Linked DNA regions of Homo sapiens: region 2 is linked to region 1. The links come from fine-mapping of genetic effects on gene expression. A gene starts in region 1. The other region holds a variant in brackets. All regions are shown on one strand. Distances are between the middles of the regions. Region 1 holds the start of FAM169A (family with sequence similarity 169 member A). Region 2 overlaps FAM169A (family with sequence similarity 169 member A).

The links.
Region 2: its variant is fine-mapped to the expression of FAM169A in whole blood (TOPMed, PIP above 0.99).

The regions. Positions count from the first base shown.
Region 1 is chr5:74,863,965-74,869,344 of GRCh38, reverse strand. FAM169A (family with sequence similarity 169 member A) reads left to right here and starts at 2,958. Exons shown (of 13, transcript NM_001376049.1): 1 at 2,958-3,180. It overlaps FAM169A-AS1 (FAM169A antisense RNA 1), which reads right to left and starts at 3,452. Exons shown (of 1, transcript NR_134288.1): 1 at 2,070-3,452. RefSeq lists silencers at 3,022-3,271, 3,342-3,511.
Region 2 is chr5:74,786,723-74,792,102 of GRCh38, reverse strand. All of the region lies in intron 11 of FAM169A (family with sequence similarity 169 member A), which reads left to right. Among named protein-coding and RNA genes, the nearest start is that of NSA2, 22 kb to the right of the region's middle. The variant C/T (reference allele first, on the strand shown) is at 2,205.

The DNA.
Region 1 (5,380 bases):
AAACAGAATGAAAACTTGTAATTATGCCCTGGAACTGGGGGACGGGACTTGGAGAGCAATTACACTTAAATGATGTAAAAATGAAAAATGTGTTTTTCAAAAACTAACAGATTATAAAATTTTGCTTAGTATATACCAGAGGAAGTTTTTACAAGTTTTCTTTCTAACTTGTAAACTTGTAACTAGTTTTAATTCTTCCTTCCTGTCTGGGAAAATACTAGATCTAAGAAATTATTTAAACTTGAAAGTATAGGACATTTAGTATGTTTTAGGGCTTCAAAAGCAAAATCTATCCATATGGTATAGGATTTTGTGCACATTTAAGGCAGTATGGAATTCTGGTTAAGGGAGTGTGCTCTTGAGCCAACATGCTAGGATTACTATCTGTGTGACCATGGGCAAATTGCTTAGTTTCTCTGTGTGCCTCAAGACTCCTCTTAGGTAAACTGGGGGTAACAGTGTATACCTGCAAGGATGGTAAGAGGATTAAGTGAATTAATTTCCATAAAGAAGTCTGTAGAGTGCCTGGCAATTTGTTAGCTGTCAAAAACATCAGTTATGATTTTAGCTATTAAGAATTCCTCTTCCCCAGTGCAACTAAAGAGCTCTTTTCTGGGTCATGTGTATTAGTAACCTCCAAAATCCAGGGTTGTGGCAAGCTTCTTTTACTTAAGATGGTTCCACTCCTCTTTAAACATAGAGGAAAAATACAATCAGAACGAACTCTTAACATGTTTCCTTTGCTAATAACAAAGTAATAATTAAAGCAAGCATTGCAAAAACAAAAACCAAAGCAATAATCCTTTTACTCTAAAAACGGTTCAGAAAAAAGCCTCAAAGCATATTTCAAAATATTGTGGTAACAATTTTCAGCATATACTAATCTGACAAAGGCTCATGTTTTTAGTTGTTGTTCTTTGCCCACTAAGATAAGCAAAATTTATCTCAGCCAAAGAGGGAAGTCAATGGTGATTTAAAAAGAAAAAACCAAAAACTCTCAAAAATAGTGTCATTTGCAAGTAGGGAAAAGAGAATCAGGCCTGGCGCAGTGGCTCACGCCTGTAATCCCAGCACTTTGGGAGGCCGAGGCGGGCGGATCGCTTGAGCTCAGAAGTTCAGGACCAGCCTGGGCAGCATGGCGAAACTCCGTCTCTACAAAAATTAGCGAGGTGCGTTGGTGTGCACCTCTGTCCCAGCTCTTCCGGAGGCTGACGCCGGAGAATCGCTTGAGCTTGGGAGGCAGAGGTTGCAGTGAGTCGAGATCGCGCCATTGCATTCCAGCCTGCCTAGGCTGTGGGAGTGAAACCCTGTCTCAAAAAAAAAAAAAAAAAAAAAAAAAAAAATTGGACCTTTTCTTTTATAGGTCTGGGTGAATGTAGTTCTGTCTCCTACCAGAATAGCCAGACATCTGGGAGCCAGGCCTCCCTGACCCAGGCACAAATACCCGCATACTTCTAAAACAATAGCTAAGAGTCAATCACACCCAGGCATTTCAAATATTATCAACAAGTTGTATTGGTTAGCTTTACACTAAGGCCTGAGGCTTCAACATCTGTAGGGCATAGTCTGGTAGCCAAAGCTTCCCCAAATGGCAATTGTTTGGGATTACCCTGGGGACTCCTACTTACACATAGCTCTAGAAATGTAAATACAAGTCATATAATTTCATTCATCACTGGCTATGGGTAGAACCCAACTACCCAAAATTCCTGCTCTATTAAATCTAATTCATTAAGTTTCATTAAAATGGTAAATGATGTGTAATAGTAAAGATTTTGGCTAATTAAATATTATACAAATGAAACAATAGATTCTTATATGGCAGAAAAGCTTTTTTTAAAAATCAGGGTCAAATATATCTATATCAACAAGCATTCTTTGAAGTATTTTTTGATCTTGCTAATTTTGCTAATCATTAGTAAATTCGTGAAAGTTGGTATTGTGATTGCTAAATATTTCCCAGGAATGAAAGAAGCAATTTTCAACTTTTCTGGATGAGCTGAACATAATACTACGGTTCTTGGATGATGAGTAAAAGAAAGTCTTGACATTAATACTTAGATACAATATTGTTTCTCAATACAGTTATTAAATATATTTAGACTACAATACGCATTACCTTAAAGACAATTTATCATGTTTTAAATGCTGGAGGGCTAATTTTCAGTAGGAGTGTGTAATTAGCAAAGGCGCCAGAGGCCATAAGACGGTAGAATAGAGCTGGGAGAGGCACGGGAGGAAAGCCGGATGGAACCCTGTTGTCTTTCTGGGTCAGGGTTATTCTGTACCGGTTAAACGGTGAAAGAGAAAAGGTCAGCGCAGGAATGTGGTATTTCCCTGACATCTCCAGATGAAAGTCCGGGCTCTAGGACTTCTGTAGACTGTGAAAGCAGCCCACGATTCTAACTTGCATGCACCTAAGTGGCAGTAGGTTTAGGATGAAAGTGGTGGGGCGGAGGCCGGCGGTCCTCGCCCGTGCCCTCTGCACCCCTGTCCCGAGGCCGGGATGGCCGCGCCCACTCTGGGTAAATTTCAGGAGGGCCTACGCGGGGCTGGAGAACTCCACCGGGCTATGCGAACAGAATCCTGCGAAGGTCGGCATTAAAGGAATACGCAAAATCAGCGTTGCAGCCCCCGCGGCTTAACCGCATCTATTTTTATATCTAAGCCAAGGTCACTCTTTAATACCAGGCCATTGCCCTGAGCTGGGCGTCGCGCTGCCGGGTGACGGCGGCCGGGGCGGAGAGAGGGGGCGCGGGTGGCGAGGCGGGGGCCGCGTGACGCCCCCGGGCTGGCCAAGCCCGCACCTGCCGGGCCGGCGCCTGAAAGCCGGGGCTGGAGGGAGGCAGGGCGGCGTCCCAGGCTCCGAGGAGGGGCCGCTCCGCGCTGGCGGGCGGGGGGATTCGCGGTGGGCGCGGGCGCGGAGCGGAAGCGAAGGCTGGAGGCGCTGCGGCGCTAGTGCGTCACGTCGTCGGAGGGCACGGTGGGCCGCGGCCGACCCGCGACGAGGAGCCGGGCGTCCGGGGCGAGCGGGAGGCAGCCGCACTCGCCCTGGCAGCCGCGAGCTGTGCGGCCTGGGACCGGCCGGAGGTCGCCAGCGAGCAGCCGCCGGCTCCATTCATTCGCGCGGCTCCGCCTCCTTTCCCGGGCTCTTCCAGCGGCTCCCGGGGCGCGTCTGAGGTGAGTGCGCTCCCTCTCCCCGGCGCGGACCGCTGGGTGAGGCCGAGACGGCCGCGCCGGGCCCCGCGCCCCCGCCAGCACCAGACCCGCGGACACCGAGCGGCGACGCGGGCCACCGGCTGTGGGCGGCCCCTGCGGGCTGGGCCTGGCGCAGACCAGTGCGGGCCGCCTGGACCCGGGGCTCGCGTCCAGCTGGCGGCGGTCTGCGGGGATCCCGTAGGGCGTGTGGCGCCCCCAGGTGCGCCGGCCTCCGCCTCGGCGCCACCATTTTGTGTGAGGGAATGCCCGTCTTCGCTCGCCTCCGCCGCGGGCCGGTTCGCAGCTGCGGCTTGCCGCCCCCTCCCCTCGCCCTCTCCCCACCTGGATGCTTGGCGTGCGAGCTGATTGCTTTGGCTTGGGGAGACGCGGACTCGGGGAGGTGTGGAACTTCAGCGTTTAGACTCGGTTCACCCGACCAGGTGGCCTCCAGAGATGCTCTGACCGCCTTCCTTTACCTGTAACTACTTTTGGAACAGATATTGTATGATTCTCCCTCCTCTGGAATGCTGGTCGTTGCAGTTTTGTCCTAATTGTGTTCTCAGCTCTCCATTATGCCATTTTTCAAGAGGCCTGTGCCTCAGGAGGTGAAGCCTTGAACCCTGGGTGGTTTATGGCTCGGGGGTCTGGATTACACTGACTCCCATGACTGTCCTTGGGGAGAAAGGATGAAGCATCTCACTGGCTTTTCAGCGTCTGGGAAGCGGCGTGGGTATCGTATCGGGTGGATTCGAAGATAACCACCTGATGCAGGTCACCTTCCCCCGCTGGGAGAGCCGTTCCTAACGTAAATTAAAACGTGTGTACGGGTTTTTGGGGGATTGGGACCGGAGGGACATATTTCTAAAAAATTTCCAGAAGGGAAAGTTTTCATTGTGATTCTCACAGAACTGTGACACAATTTGTCATTTTCAAGGTTCCTGAGAATTTGGGAATTCTTTTAATTCGTTGGCTTCTTGCGAATTACTACTTACGAACTGAGCAGATTATACCCAAGCCATTTATATTTTGTCATTGCATCACAGACAGGGATTACAATCGGGAGTGCTGGCTGTTGCATAATGCACACATTTGGGCCCTGGAGGGAATTCACCGAAGTGGATCTGGGTTTGGTGTGCCATGCGTTTTTATTTTTTACACAGGATGTACAGATGATCTTTGCAAACTACGTCCCTTATCGTGCTATAAAGTGTTTACAAGAGGAAAGATTTTTATTGACTAGTATGGACCAGACTAAAATTTTTAGTGTTTTAGTTTTGCTTGTTTTGGAGGAAAGGCAAGGAATGAGATGGTGAGAGGCACCTGGGAAAAGTCCGTTTATCCTAACACTTGAAGCGCAAACAAAGATAAAACATGATCGTCTTTCACAGAAATCTTGTAGCTATTATAGTGGACTTTTCTCTAAGTTAATGATGGGGATCTGTTTGGGGAACTTAGAAATAGCTTATGTGAGTAGCAACATTGACCTTCCACATGAGTGACCATAAATTAAGGTGTTTTACCTGTGGATTTTAGGTTCTAAAAGGCTTCAAATTAGTCTGACCTTTGAGATAGTATTCATGTCATTACAAGTGGTATTTATTTAATAAAGATGGGATATAGGCCGGGTGCGGTGGCTCACACCTGTTTTCCCAACACTTTGGGAGGCCAGAGCGGGTGGATCACGAGGTCAGGAGTTCAAGACCAGCCTGGCCAACATGGTGAAACCCCGTCTCTACTAAAAATACAAAATTAGCCGGGTGTGGTGGCACATGCCTGTAATCCCAGCTACTCGGGAGGCTGAGGCACAAGAATCACTTGAACCCAGGAGGCAGAGGTTGCGGTGAGCCGAGATCGTGCCCTTGCACTCCAGCCTGGGCAACAACAGTGAAACACCAAGATGGAATATATATCCAACAAAGGATTTTGATTTGGAGAAAACAAAATAATTAAGTGCTTTTGAGGTAAAGTTTCCATGCCATCCTCCTTATTAAATTAAACTATTTATTTTCTGTTTTGTTGAAGACTCTCCCACTAATTTTGTCTTCAAACAAGTGATTACATATTGTGTACCATCCCTGGCAAAAATATCGTGCTTCCCATTATAGATATGTTTATTCTATAGGGAGAATTATGGAGGCGAGAAGAACCTTGGACATTTAGAGATGAGTCTTGGTTTAGGGAA
Region 2 (5,380 bases), 77 kb after region 1:
AATACAACTGTCATTCGTACAAGTGGAAACCCCCAACCCAAATAATATTACATAAACACTTAATGCTGATATGATGTCAATAAATCTTATGTCACATGATAAAGGAAAAGGGAAATAAAATGAAGATATTTTCTTAGTACAAATGTATACATGCACAAACATGTTCTTAACAAAATAAGGAAGAAATACTCATGACAATTACAGTCCTGGTTTCTGCAGCTGGTCACGTGGTCGAAGCTGGAGTTGATGACTACCTTCTTCTGCTACTCATTCTGTATTCCCTTTGCCTTCAGCAAGCACCTTAGTGGGTCATGTTTTTTTTTCCTAGTGGAGTAACCCAAACCTTCATTCCTGAAGGGTCTGGGCCATTTGTAGTCTTGCCTGGATTGGGCTGTTGTAGTTTCCCATTGACCTTAATCACAGGGCATCGTAATACTAAGAGACACCCCAAGGGATCTCCTATATTCCATGCATACTCTTCCTTACCTCCATTGTGGAGTAGTAGACTGATTTCATCTTGATAGTCTGGGTCAGTCACCCCAGCCAACACTGTAACTCCCTCCTTAGCCTGTTGACTTAAAGGTAGGAGGAGCCCAAAGTGTCCAAGTGGCAATCTTAACTTCCAGTTTAATGGAATCATTGTTGTGTCTCCTGGTGGCAGCGTTCGTCTCTCTGGAACTAATACCACTAGGCCAGCAGAACGTAATGTCATGGGGACAGGAAGCAAAAATGTTTCTAGTGGATCACTAGGGGTGATGGTGAGTGATGCCATTTCCACTTTTACCCCTGGATTCCTGGACCTGTGAATCCTGGCTATGGGAGAAACAGTACCATATACTGGATGCTTATTCAGAGCATACCCAGCCTGCTGGAGACCTTTGCCGCAGCCCTGCTAAGTATTATCACCTAGTTGGCGTTGTAATTGTGACTTCAAAAGGACATTCCACCATTCTGTCAATCCAGCTGCTTCAAGATGATGGGGAACATGGTAAGAATAGTGAATTCCATGAGCATGAGCCCACTGCCGCACTGCTTTTGCCGTAAAGTGAGTGCCTTGTTCAGAGGCAATGCTGTGTGGAGTAGCATGATGATGGATAAGGCCTTCCGCGAGTCCACGGGTGGTAGTCTTGGCAGAAGCATTGCGTGCAGGAGAGGCAAACTCATATCCAGAGTAGGTGTCTATTCCAGTGAGGACAAACCTCTGCTCTTTCCATGATAGAAGAGGTCCAGTGTAATCAACCTGCCACCAATTAGCTGTCTGATCACCCCAAGGACTGGTGTCATATTAAGGGCTTAGTGTTGGTCTGTGCTGCTGGCAAGTTGGGCACTCAGCAGTGGCCTTAGCCAGGTCAGCCTTGGTGAGTGGAAGTCCATGTTGCTGAGCCCATGCGTAACCACCATCCCTGTCACCATGGCCACTTTGTTCATGGACCCATTGGGTGATGACAGGGGCGGCTGGGTAAGGAGGCTGTGTGGTGTCCACAGAACAAGTCATCCTATCCACTCGATTATTAAAATCCTCCTCTGCTCAGGTCACCCTTTGGTAGAGTACTCACAGGGGATACAAATAACTTCATTTTTTCACCACTCAGAGAGGTCCATCCACATACCTCTTCCCCAAATTTGTCACCAGTTTTCCAATCATGCTTCTTTCAAGTCCCTGACCGTCATCCAAACCATTGGCTGCAGTCCATGAATCAGTATTATCACACATCTGTCTATTTCTACTTCCTTGGAACGTGCACAACCAGGTGCACTGCTCGAAGTTCTGCCCACTGGGAAGATTTTCCTTCACCAGTGTCCTTCAGGAAAGGGGCTATAGGGCTGTAGCTGTCCACTTTTGGGTGGTGCCTGCATATCATGCAGAACCATCTTTGAACCAGTCCCTAGTCTTCTCTTCCTCTGTCAGCTGATTATAGGGAACTCCCCATAAGGCCATCGGTGCAGGCTAGGGAAAAGAAGGCCAGGGTGGCAGCAGTGGAGACCATGGGCGTTTGAGCCACTTCCTCATGTAACTTACTTGTGTCTTCAAGACCTGCTCAAGCCCGATCACATATATACCACTTCAATTTGATGATGGAATGCTGCAGTGCATGACCCACTTTATGACTAGATGGGTCAGAAAGCACCCAGTTCATGATAGGCAGTTCAGGTCACATGGTGACTTGATGACCCATAATCAAGCATTCGGTTTCTACCAAAGC[C/T]CAGTAACAGGCCAAGAACTGTTTCTCAAAAGGAGAGCAGTTATCTGCAGAAGATGGCAGGGCCTTGCTCCAAAATCTTAGAGGCCTCCACTGCGATTCACCTATGGGAGCCTGCCAAAGGCTCCAAACAGCACTTGTCTCTCTAAAGGAGAGTAGTTATCTGAAGAAGATGGCAGGGCCTTGCTCCAAAATCCTAGAGGCCTCCGCTGTGATTCACCTATGGGGGCCTGCCAAAGGCTTCTCACAGCATCCCTGCCTGCCACTGACACCTCAAGCACCATTAGATCTGCTGGATCATATGGCCCAAGTGGCAGAGCAGCTTGCACAGCAGCCTGGACCTGTCGCAGAGCCTTCTCCTGTTCTGGATCCCACTCAAAACTGGCAGCCTTTTGGGTCACTCGATAAATGGGCTGGAGTAACACAACCAAATGAGGAATTTGTTGCCTCCAAAATCCAAATAGGCCAACTTGTGCTGTGCCTCTTTCTTGGTTGTAGTAGGGGCCAAATGCAGCATCCTATCCTTTACCTTAGAAGGAATATCTCAACAGGCCCCACACCACTGGACCCCTAGAAACTTTACTGAGGTAGAAGGTCCCTGAATTGTAGTCGGATTTATTTCCCATCCTCTGGCATGCAAATGTCTCATCAATAAGTCCAGTGTGTTTGCTACTTCTTGCTCACTGGATCCAATCAGCATAATGTCATCAATGTTATGGGCCAGTGTGATAACTTGTGGAAGTGAAAAGCGATCAAGGTCTCTTTGAACAAGGTTATGACACAAATCTGGAGAGTTGATATACCCCTGAGGTAGGATAGTAAAGGTGTGTTGCTGGCCTTGCCAGCCGAACGCAAATTGCTTCTGGTGGGCCTTATGGACAGGAATGGAGAAAAAGGCATTTGGCAAATCATTGGCTGCATACCAGGTACCAGGAGATATGTTAATTTCCTCAAGCAATGAAACCACATCTGGTGCAGCAGCTGCAATTGGAGTCACCACTTGGTTAAGTTTATGATACTCCACTGTAATTCTCCAAGATCCGTCTTCTGCACAGACCAAATGAGAGAGTTGAACCGTGATGTGATGGGAATCACCACCCCTGCACCGTCCTTGATGGTGGCACTAATCTCTGCAGTGCCTCCAGGGATGCGATATTGTGTTTGATTGACTATTTTTCTTTCTTTTTTTTTTTTTTGAGATGGAGTTTCGCTGTTGTTGCCCAGGCTGGAGTGCAATGGCACGATCTTGGCTCACCGCAACCTCCACCTCGTAGGTTCAAGCGATTCTCCTGTCTCAGCCTCCCTAGTAGCTGGGATTACAGGCATGTGCCACCATGCCCGGCTAATTTTGTATTTTTAGTAGAGATGGGGTTTCTCCATGTTGGTCAGGCTGGTTTCGAACTCCCGACCTCAGGTGATACGCCCGCCTTGGCCTCCCAAAGTGCTGGGATTACAGGCATGAGCCACCGCCCCCGGCCTGATTGACTATTTTTCTAGGTAGAGGCAACTCTAATGGTTTCCATTTGGCCTGTCCCACCATAATAGCCCTCACCCCACCAGTCAGGGAGCCATTGTGGGGGCTCTGCCAGCTGTTAAGTATGTCTATGCCAATTAATGCATTCTGGCACTGGGGAAATGACCACAGGATGAGTCCGGGGACCCACTGGACCGACTGTAAGTCAGACCTGAGCTAAAACTCCATTAGATTACCTGATCTTCATAAGCCCCTACTTTAACTGGAGGACCACAGTGACGTTTTGGGTCCCCCGGAATCAACGTCAGCTCAGAGCCAGTGTCCAGTAGTCCCTGAAATGTCTGATCATTTCCCTTTCCCCAGTGCACAGTTACCCTGGTAAAAGGCCAGAGGTCTCCTTGGGGAAGGATGGGAGAAAGACTCACAGCATAAATTGTCTCTACTGTAGTGGGGTCCTTCCTCAAGGGGCTTCATTCAAGGTGTTCTGGGTCTATAAAGTGGCTCAAGTCTGGAAATTGAGGGGCTGTGATTCTCTCTTTTTTTTAATAATTCAGATTAGTCTTTTGTCCACTCGACCTGGAAGTTTTCCACTTATATGAATTAAGTAGGAATTCAGTAGGCTTCCTATCAATTCCACTTCTGGGAACACTGTGATTAATTAGCCAGTGCAAAAGCTGTACACAAGTCAGATTATTCTGATTGCTGCTTTGCCTCTGCTGCGGTCCATTATGGTAGCTCGCCCACCTTGCATTTGATGGTTGAGTGCTCCCACTTGGCCTCTGCCACGTCAGGATCCAATTATTCCCGTTCTAAATTTTGTAGTTGAGTGACTGCAGTTCCCACTGTTAGATTTGGCATACAGAGAAGAGTAATCATAGAGCTCTTTGAAGATTAACATGCTGCCCTCACAAATCTCTTTCGCAAAGCATCGGTCAAGGGTATATCTTCTGGACCCTCCCAGCTGGGATGAGTAGGTCTAAAGTGACTAATCCACTCCACCATCCCAATCTCTCTAAGCCTTTGGATCTCTTCCTCTACATTAAACCAAGGGAGATCAGCATTTCCAGCTCGCTCAGAGTGAGCCATCTTTTAATCCGTATTTCAGCTAACCAAGCAATCAAGCTATTAGAACCTTTTTAAATTCCCTGAGCAGCAACATTAAATGCAGAGTCCCTACTTAGTGGGCCCGAATCAATAAATTCAGCCTGATCGAACTCTATGTTCCTTCCACCATCATCCCACACCCTTAACATCCGTTCCCACACCTGTTCTCCAGATTCCTGCTTATATAAATTAGAAAACTCTAGCAGTTCTTTTCAAGTGTAGCACACCTCCTTGTGGGTCACACTCTGAACTTCACCTCTAGGAGGCCACCGGGACTTTAGTCCAGTTATAGGTCTAGAAGCAAACAGGGCTGGCTCTCTTCTCCTGAGGTGATGTTACCACTACTGGGGATGGCGAAGCTGTTTCTTCTGGCAAAAAGTCTCATCAGAGTTTACAAGCTCTGTGTCCCCAGCATCATCAGGGTCCTCCCACGTGTCCCCATTCCAAGTTGCAGGGTCCCATTCTTTTCCAATCAGGGCCCTCACTTTAAGAGTAGACACCTGGCGAGGCTGTGCATGCACCTTTCGTTGCAGGTCAGCCACTTACATGATAAGAGGTTGTGTCTGATTTTCCACAATTTCAGCTCTTTGTCTACAGGAGA